Homo sapiens: one gene and its partner. The protein of the gene in region 1 purifies or fractionates together with the protein of each later gene. This does not show direct contact. Each region holds a gene or a part of one and is shown on either strand. Other genes may lie near its edges.

What was found. The genes of interacting proteins can lie anywhere in the genome.
Region 2: the proteins of FGL1 (region 1) and TSR3 purify together in Homo sapiens (affinity purification with mass spectrometry; 4 studies listed by BioGRID and IntAct, with this or other methods). This does not show direct contact.

Annotation. Positions count from the first base shown.
Region 1 is NC_000008.11:17,888,925-17,892,670, reverse strand, and holds part of FGL1 (fibrinogen-like protein 1 precursor), read left to right. Parts: intron 1-863; exon of another isoform or gene 864-990; intron 991-3,746. UniProt on the Homo sapiens protein: Immune suppressive molecule that inhibits antigen-specific T-cell activation by acting as a major ligand of LAG3. Responsible for LAG3 T-cell inhibitory function. Binds LAG3 independently from MHC class II (MHC-II).
Region 2 is NC_000016.10:1,350,141-1,353,886, forward strand, and holds the start of TSR3 (18S rRNA aminocarboxypropyltransferase), read right to left. Parts: upstream 1,739-3,746; 5' UTR 1,665-1,738; coding exon 1,553-1,664; intron 1,459-1,552; coding exon 1,239-1,458; intron 861-1,238; coding exon 667-860; intron 95-666; coding exon 1-94. Other genes in the region: GNPTG (N-acetylglucosamine-1-phosphotransferase subunit gamma precursor), read left to right, coding at 1,826-1,877, 1,962-2,019, 2,099-2,166. UniProt on the Homo sapiens protein: Aminocarboxypropyltransferase that catalyzes the aminocarboxypropyl transfer on pseudouridine at position 1248 (Psi1248) in 18S rRNA.

The sequences.
Region 1 (3,746 bases):
CTTAGCAGTTTCATTTATCAAGGAAAAATCCTAATCAGTAATCTATTAAATACATTGGTTATTTTCAGTCAGAAGAACAATTTGAGTTGGAGTCACAAATAAATGGTATTTATGTCATGTCGTTATGCTGATTTCCCAGACTAGTGTAAATATACTTAGTGAAAGTCTCTTTTATTTCTTTAGGCAAACAATTTTCCCTCTCTGAGCCTCTAGTGTTGATGATATTTGACTGAATGATGTCACTTCCTCTAATTATATTTTCTCTGCATGTTCTAGTCTCGGGGAACAAGGCTATTTCTAAAATCTCTTTATATTTTTTAAATATTTTGTTTTCCATCTTTATTTTCTTTTGCTTCCTTATAATAAAATGTTTTTGTTTCTTATTTTCTGTAACATGAAAAATACTTTATGACTGTATGTCTGTGACTATGCAATTGTTTATGTTTAAGAAATTGCCATTTGCATAAGGGCATTTATTTTTTTCCTTTATGCTACTTGAGTTTTGTGATAAATTTTAAAATTAGATAGTTAAAGACACAAGGGTACAAATTTAAAAAGCAACATAGCTATTATAATTTTGCTCAAAAAACATATTTATTGCCAACTGAAAACACGAGTCAAACTAAAAACTTATTATGAGATAGCTATGGTAATGACCTTGGCCCAGTGAGAGAGCCAACTTTCAAATATCTTAGGTATTATGTTTTCAGGTATATATTTTCTTTTGGGATTTTATAAATCCAAATGTCTCTTTTAAAACCAAAATAAGCTGTTACATATTGACATGACATATTTGCAAATCACAAAAAAGTTTATGAAAAGCATAATTCATTAAGAGTAGTTATTTTTGTTGTTGCTGGAAGGGTGAAGATGGAGGGAATCTGATAAAGACATCTTATAAATTCAACAGACACAAAAGAATTTGATCTCCCATAAGCAACTGTGAAATTACAATAACAGATCCTGGGAAGTTCTACAATTCTAATTCAGGTTTACAAGTTTTCTTCTCATCTATTCAGTAGATATTTTGTCGAGTACCTGTGCTAGGTTCAGCTGTGCCCCCAAAACATGTACATTCCTAACTTTTATTACCTGTGAATGTGATCTCATTTGCAAATAGGGTCTTTGTACATGTAACTGAGTTAAGATGAGGTCATACTGGATTAGGGCAGACCCTAATCCAATGACCGATGTCCTTATATGAAGAGGGAAATTAGACACAGAGACACACAGAGGAAAGACAGCTATGTGAAGATGGTATCAGAGAATAGAGTGATACTGCCACAAGTCAAAGGATGTCAAGAATTGCTGGCAACCACCAAATGCTAGAAGAGTCCAGAAAGGATTTTCTCTTAGAGCCTTTGAAGGAAGTATGGCCCTGTTCTTCTTGATTTTGGACTTGTATCCTCCAGAACTGTGAGATAATAAACTCCTGTTGTTTTAGGCCACTCAGTTTATGGTAATTTGTTATGGTGGCCTCAAGAAACTAGTACAGTACCTAACTATCCACCTAGCATTAGGGCAGTATACATAATAGATGTAGCCACTCACCTCTTCGTGCTTACATTGTACAGGGCGGTTGGAGTAGGTAGACAATAAACACATATATTATAATATTTCATTATATTTGGTGATAAGTGCTAAGGAGAAACTGAATCCATTGTGATAGAGATATGAAGTGTGTGGGTGATGTTGTTTGCGTGTGTCTCCACCCAAATCTCATCTTGAATTGTAGTTCTCGTAATCCCACATGTTATGGGATGGACCCAGTGGAAGGTAATTGAATCATGGGGGCAGCTACCCCCATGCTGCTGTTTTCGTGATAGTGAGTTCTCCTGAGATCTGATGGTTTTATAAGGGGCTTTTGCTTGGCTCTTCCCCTTCCTGCCATCATGTGAAGAAGGACATGTTTGCTTCCCCTTCCACCACGACTGTAAGTTTCCTGGGGCCTCCCCAGTCATGGCAAACTGTGAGTCAATTAAACCTTTTTCCTTTATAAATTACCCAGTCTCAGGCAGATCTTTACTGGGTAAATTTATAAAATGAGAATGGACTAAGACAGTAGGGGACAGCTGTTATTTTATATGTGGTAGTCAGGGAAGGTATCTCTGGGAAGGGAATACCTGAGCAAAGACCTGAAGGATGTCATGGAGCAAACCACAGAGATTTTCAGAAGAGCATTCCAGGTAGAGAGAACAGCAAGTGCAATCGCCCTGAGAAGTCTGTGTATTTCAGGGTTTTCCAAAAATGCCAAAGAGGCCAATGTAGCCAGAACAGGCAAAAATGATGGGAAAAGAGATGTGTTGAGGAGGTGGATGCTCACAGATTATGTAAAGCTTTGTCGGTGAATGACCAAATATCCCGGTTTGCCCAGGAAAGGCTCAGTATAGAATGTTGTCTCATTGTAATTCTAAAAAATTGTTTGGAATCTTCCATTGGTAGCTTGGGCCAGACATTAGCAATAGAGGTGGTGAGAAATGATTGGATGTTGTATAAATTTTGAACGTAGAGTCTTTCCTTAGGAAAGTTACTTTGCTTCACTATTTGAGCTTCCTTTAGTAAAAAGTAAACATAATGTGTCTTCTAAAGACATCGTGAGATTTCATGTGTTGATGATGTATTAGCAATTTTGTAAACATATTTTAAATGGCACACATTAATGTATTAACATGGGAGGCAGCATTGATATAAAAACAGGTTCTTGCCAATTTGTTCTCTCTCTGATCAAGTAAGCTGCAAACAGTATATTTTGAACCTATTTTTTTGGTATTCATTGTAGTATAAATGGTTATAATGATTTTCAAGTGTGTTCTTCCTATCTAAACAATATGCATTAATTTGAAACAATGAAATTGCCATTTTTCTAAGTCAGAAATGTTCAAACATCTGCCATTTCTTATAGTTCAACATAATACAGTAAGAAAGGATTAACCAGGCAATAAAGAAAGAGGTTCAGGAGATTTGGGAGATATTCCCAGGGGATATCCCCAGAGGCTGAATGGTCCTGGAGAAATCATAAGCATCCTTGTGCTTGTTTTCTTATTTTCACTGTGAGGCTAATGAAATAAAATAAAATGGCCAATTAAAATTTGATAGTGTTTTGATAGTGTTGTTGTTGTTTGAGGTGGAGTGTCGCTCTGTCACCCAGGCTTAACTACAGTGAGACAATCTCAGCTCACTGCAACCTCCGCCTCCCAGGTTCAAGTGATTCTCATGCTTCAGCCTCCCGAGTAGCTGGGATTACAGGTGTGCACCACCACACCTGGCTAATTTTTGTATTTTTAGTAGCGATGGAGTTTTATCATGTTGGCCAGGCTGGTCTTGAACTCCTGGCCTCTGGCGATCCTCCCACTTCGTCCTCCCAAAGTGCTGAGATTACAGGCGTAAGCCACCACGCCCAGCCAAAGTTCGGCAGAGTGTTTAGTGATGCCCAAACACAAACACAATATGGTTTCAGATGAGTATTCCTTATTTTTCCAATCCACGTTAGACTTGGGGAAATAGCCCTTGTCCCCTTGATGATGGGCCCTTTAATGTAAGTAATATTGCAGCCTTGCAGAGGTACATTCTACTTGAATGGCTAGCTCATTTTTATATAATGCCCCAGGCCACGCAGGCTGCTTGGCATCTTTGTGGAACTACGCTTACTGTCCCATCAAGCCTGTTTAGCAATTATTGTGTGTCATTATTAAAATATTATTCTCTTATTGTGAAGAAAAGATACTAAAGCATGCTGTAGGTCAGTC
Region 2 (3,746 bases), on another chromosome or scaffold:
GCCGCGTACTTGTCCAGGAGCTGGCGGTTCAGGTCCAAGAAGCCCTTGCCCCATTTAAACTTCCGCAGCAAAATGACAGCAAGGTCTGGAAAGCCTGACGGTGTGAGAAACAGGAAACCCAAAGAAGTCGACGGTCCCCTCAAGTGCCTCCTGATCACCCTGCTGCCGGATGGCGGCGCTCTCCCAAGTAACCGCAGGGTCCCCAGCAAACATCAGCTCACAGTCCTGAGAACCCGTGCTGCCCCCAGCCTGCACCTCCCTTGCTACAGTCCACACCTCTGCAACCGACCAAGTCCCCCTCCTTTGCTGCGAAACAAACATTCCCACCAAGACTGCCCCACGCCTCATCAGGGCCTCTTTAGATCAGCAATTCAGTAAGGAGGACGTGGAGGATAAGGAGGATTCTCTGGGCAGTGGTGCCCTGATAATGAATGGCACCCCACACACCGGCCCTGATAGAACAGCGATCCCATTCTGCCTCTACTGCAACTCCACAGGCCGAAAACCTGAAGTGACAGTTGGGGCTGGAACCGTGGTCTGTCTGAACTGTTCCCCTGTCCGTCCCTTATGCTCCTCCTGGGGTCTGTCGGCAGGAAACATGATGCTGGGAGCATAGCAGGAACAGCAGGCCGCCGGGTCACACTGCTGTGGGGCCCCTGGACTCACCTACGATGCAGAAGGTGGCAGCAAACGCTTCCACGCAGGAAAGTCTGTAGGGCCGGCCATAGTTCACGGGGTTGGCGGCCACCAGGTAGGGCAACAGGCGCAAGTGGCTCCCTCGCATCTTCCCAAACGGTGTCTCGTCCAGCCTGGCCCAGGAGCAGTCGATGACGGCGACCCCAGACTGCGCCACCAGCTGTCTGCCAGGGACAGCATGGGATAAGTTCAGGAGCCAGCACTACCCAAGGTGGAGCATGCCCCGGAGAATGGCCTAGCTAAGGGATTCAGGGACATCATTCCGCCATCCCCAAACACCCTCAAACGGACTTCACGAGCAAGCTTTTGAGGCAGCTGCTTGGGGCACCTGGAGCATGTGTTTATTCACTCAACAAACGTTTATTACCCCAAAACCTCCTTTATCCCAGGCTCTGCGCTACGCAACGGAGGCAAACTAGACAGACGTTCCCTGCCCACGTGGGTGTGGATGTGGGTGCGACATACAAGTGCCACTAAACCATCCCTGAAGGGAACCACGCGCTGGAAATGAAGACGACCTCGGGCAGGCCTCCCGCGCCTACCTGTCTGCGGGGGACGCGTACTGCTTGCCCACGGGGCTCAGCACCAGACCGCCGAATCTGTGGCCCAGGCGCAGGCAGCGCACCAGCCCCAGGCGGGCCAGCTTGCGGCCCGTGCAGCGCCGGGGGTCGCAGTGGCCCAACTCCCACATGGCCAGCGTGCAGGGCAGCGCCGCCGGGCCCGGGCCGCCCTCGCCGTCAGCCGCCCCTGGCTCCACGGAAGCTGCACGAGAGAGAGAAGGGCACTCGGCCTCAGCGTGGGACCCCCGGGCAGGCCCTCAAACCCTGACCCGCTCTCCCCATCACGCCTCGCTCACCCTGCAGCGCGGCGCCGACCTCCTCGGCGAAGGCCTCCAGGGAGCGCGTCGGGAGGTGCCGAGGGCGGCCGCCTTCCGCCCCCGGCCCGCGCGCTGCCCTCCTGCGGCCCATGGCGCGGACCTGGGGTGCCGGGGACTCCCCACCCCACGGCCGCGCCCCTCGGCCTCCCAATGGGCTGTGCGGCTGCCAGCGCTTGCGCCGGACGCCACTTCCGGTCCCCGTGGTCACGTGACCGTCACTTCACGTGACCGCGCGGCGGCCGCTGCGGCGCGATGGCGGCGGGGCTGGCGCGGCTCCTGTTGCTCCTCGGGCTCTCGGCCGGCGGTGAGTGGCCCGGCCGTCCGCGTCCCCAGGCCCCGCGCGCGCTCTGCACCCCGGCCTCCCCGCTCACGGTCTCGCTCCCCGTAGGGCCCGCGCCGGCAGGTGCAGCGAAGATGAAGGTGGTGGAGGAGCCCAACGCGTTTGGGTGAGCAGCCTCGCGGGCTGGCGGCTCGAGCGGGGGACGGCCCGGGCCCGTTCCCCGCTGACCTTGCCGCTTCCCGTAGGGTGAACAACCCGTTCTTGCCTCAGGCCAGTCGCCTCCAGGCCAAGAGGGATCCTTCACCCGTGTCTGGTGAGTGAGGAGCGCTGTTGGCCGGCGCGGGGGTGGCCGCGGGGAGCAGCAACAGTGGAGGATGGATGAGTGACCCTGAGAGTTACGGCCCGGAGTCTAAAGCATTGGTTTGTCAGCCTTCTAAAATTAATGTGGAAGTACGAGAGAATATACCAGAACGTTCTTGTAGCGAATTAAATTATCTCCAGACTTAGTCCTTCCTTTCCTTTCCGAGAGGTAACTGCTGTTAATAGTCTGGTGACTTTGCAGACGCGTTTCTGTGCTTTTACGTGCGTGTCTATGCAACTGGAAAACGTATAGTTTTTGTAATCTAATCGCTTTTTTAAAAAATCATGCTGCGCGAGTATTTGGCTGATTTGTCGTTGTCACTCGCTGTATCTCTCGGGACGCTTCATGGTGATGATATAGGTCTTCGTTCTTTCTCTTGGTGCTCAGCACGCGATAGGATGGCACTGCACTCCCCGATTGTATTTAGGTTCTTGCCATTTTTTTGGCCATTAGAAATAGTTCTGTGGAGAACATGCTGTGTAGGTGCTTTGGTTTGCCCTCAGGTGAGCGGTTTCCCAGTGCAGGATTCCAGAAGTGGAATTGGTGGGTCATGAGTATATATATCATTTAAACGCTGAATGAGTATTAAATATAATAGACAAAAATCCAAGAATTTTTTTTTTTTTTTTTTTGAGACAAGAGTCTCGCTCTGTCGCCCAGGCTGGAGTGCAGTGGCACGATCTCGGCTCACTGCAACCTCCGCCTCCCAGGTTCAAGCGATCCTCATGCCTCAGCCTCCCGAGTAGCTGGGATCACAGGCATGCATCACCATCACGCCCAGCAAATTTTTGTATTTTTAGTAGAGATAGGGTTTATTTCACCGTATTGACCAGGCGGGTCTCGAACTCCTGACCTCAAGTGATCCGCCCATCTCGGCCTCCAAAAGTGCTGGGATTATAGGCGTGAGCCACCGCGCCCAGCTTTAGTAATTTTATTATCGAATACCTTTATGTGTTAGGGTCTGTGCTGGGGTTGCAGAAACGAACACAGATATACCAATGCTTGTCCTCATGGAGCTGACAGTCTAATGGGGAGGGATGGAGGAACAGGCACTGAGCCTGTAGAATTAGATAAAATACATAGAATGGCCAATGATGAAAAATGCCATGTAGATGTGTGAAGCAGAGGAGGGAGTGTGTGTATGTGTGTTAGAGTATTGTTTGGGGGATCGCTTTTTTTATTTTTTAGAGACGGGGTCTTGCTCTCTCACTCGGGCTGGAGTGCAGTAGTGCAATCATAGCTCACTGCATCCTTGAACTCCTGGGCTGAAGCAATCCACCAACCTCAGCTTCCTGAGTAGCTGGGACTACAGGTGCACGCCACCATGCCCGGCAAATGTTAAGTGTTCTTGTAGAGATGGAAGTCTCACTATGTTGCCCAGGCTGGCCCCAAACTCCCAGCGTCAAGCAATCCTCCTGTCTTGGTGGGGATTGCTTTAAATAGGGTGCTGAGGAAAAGTCTAAGAAGTGACATTTCAGCCAAAAGCTAAAGGAGAAAAGGGAGTAAAGCTGTGGCTATTTGGGGAAAGGGAT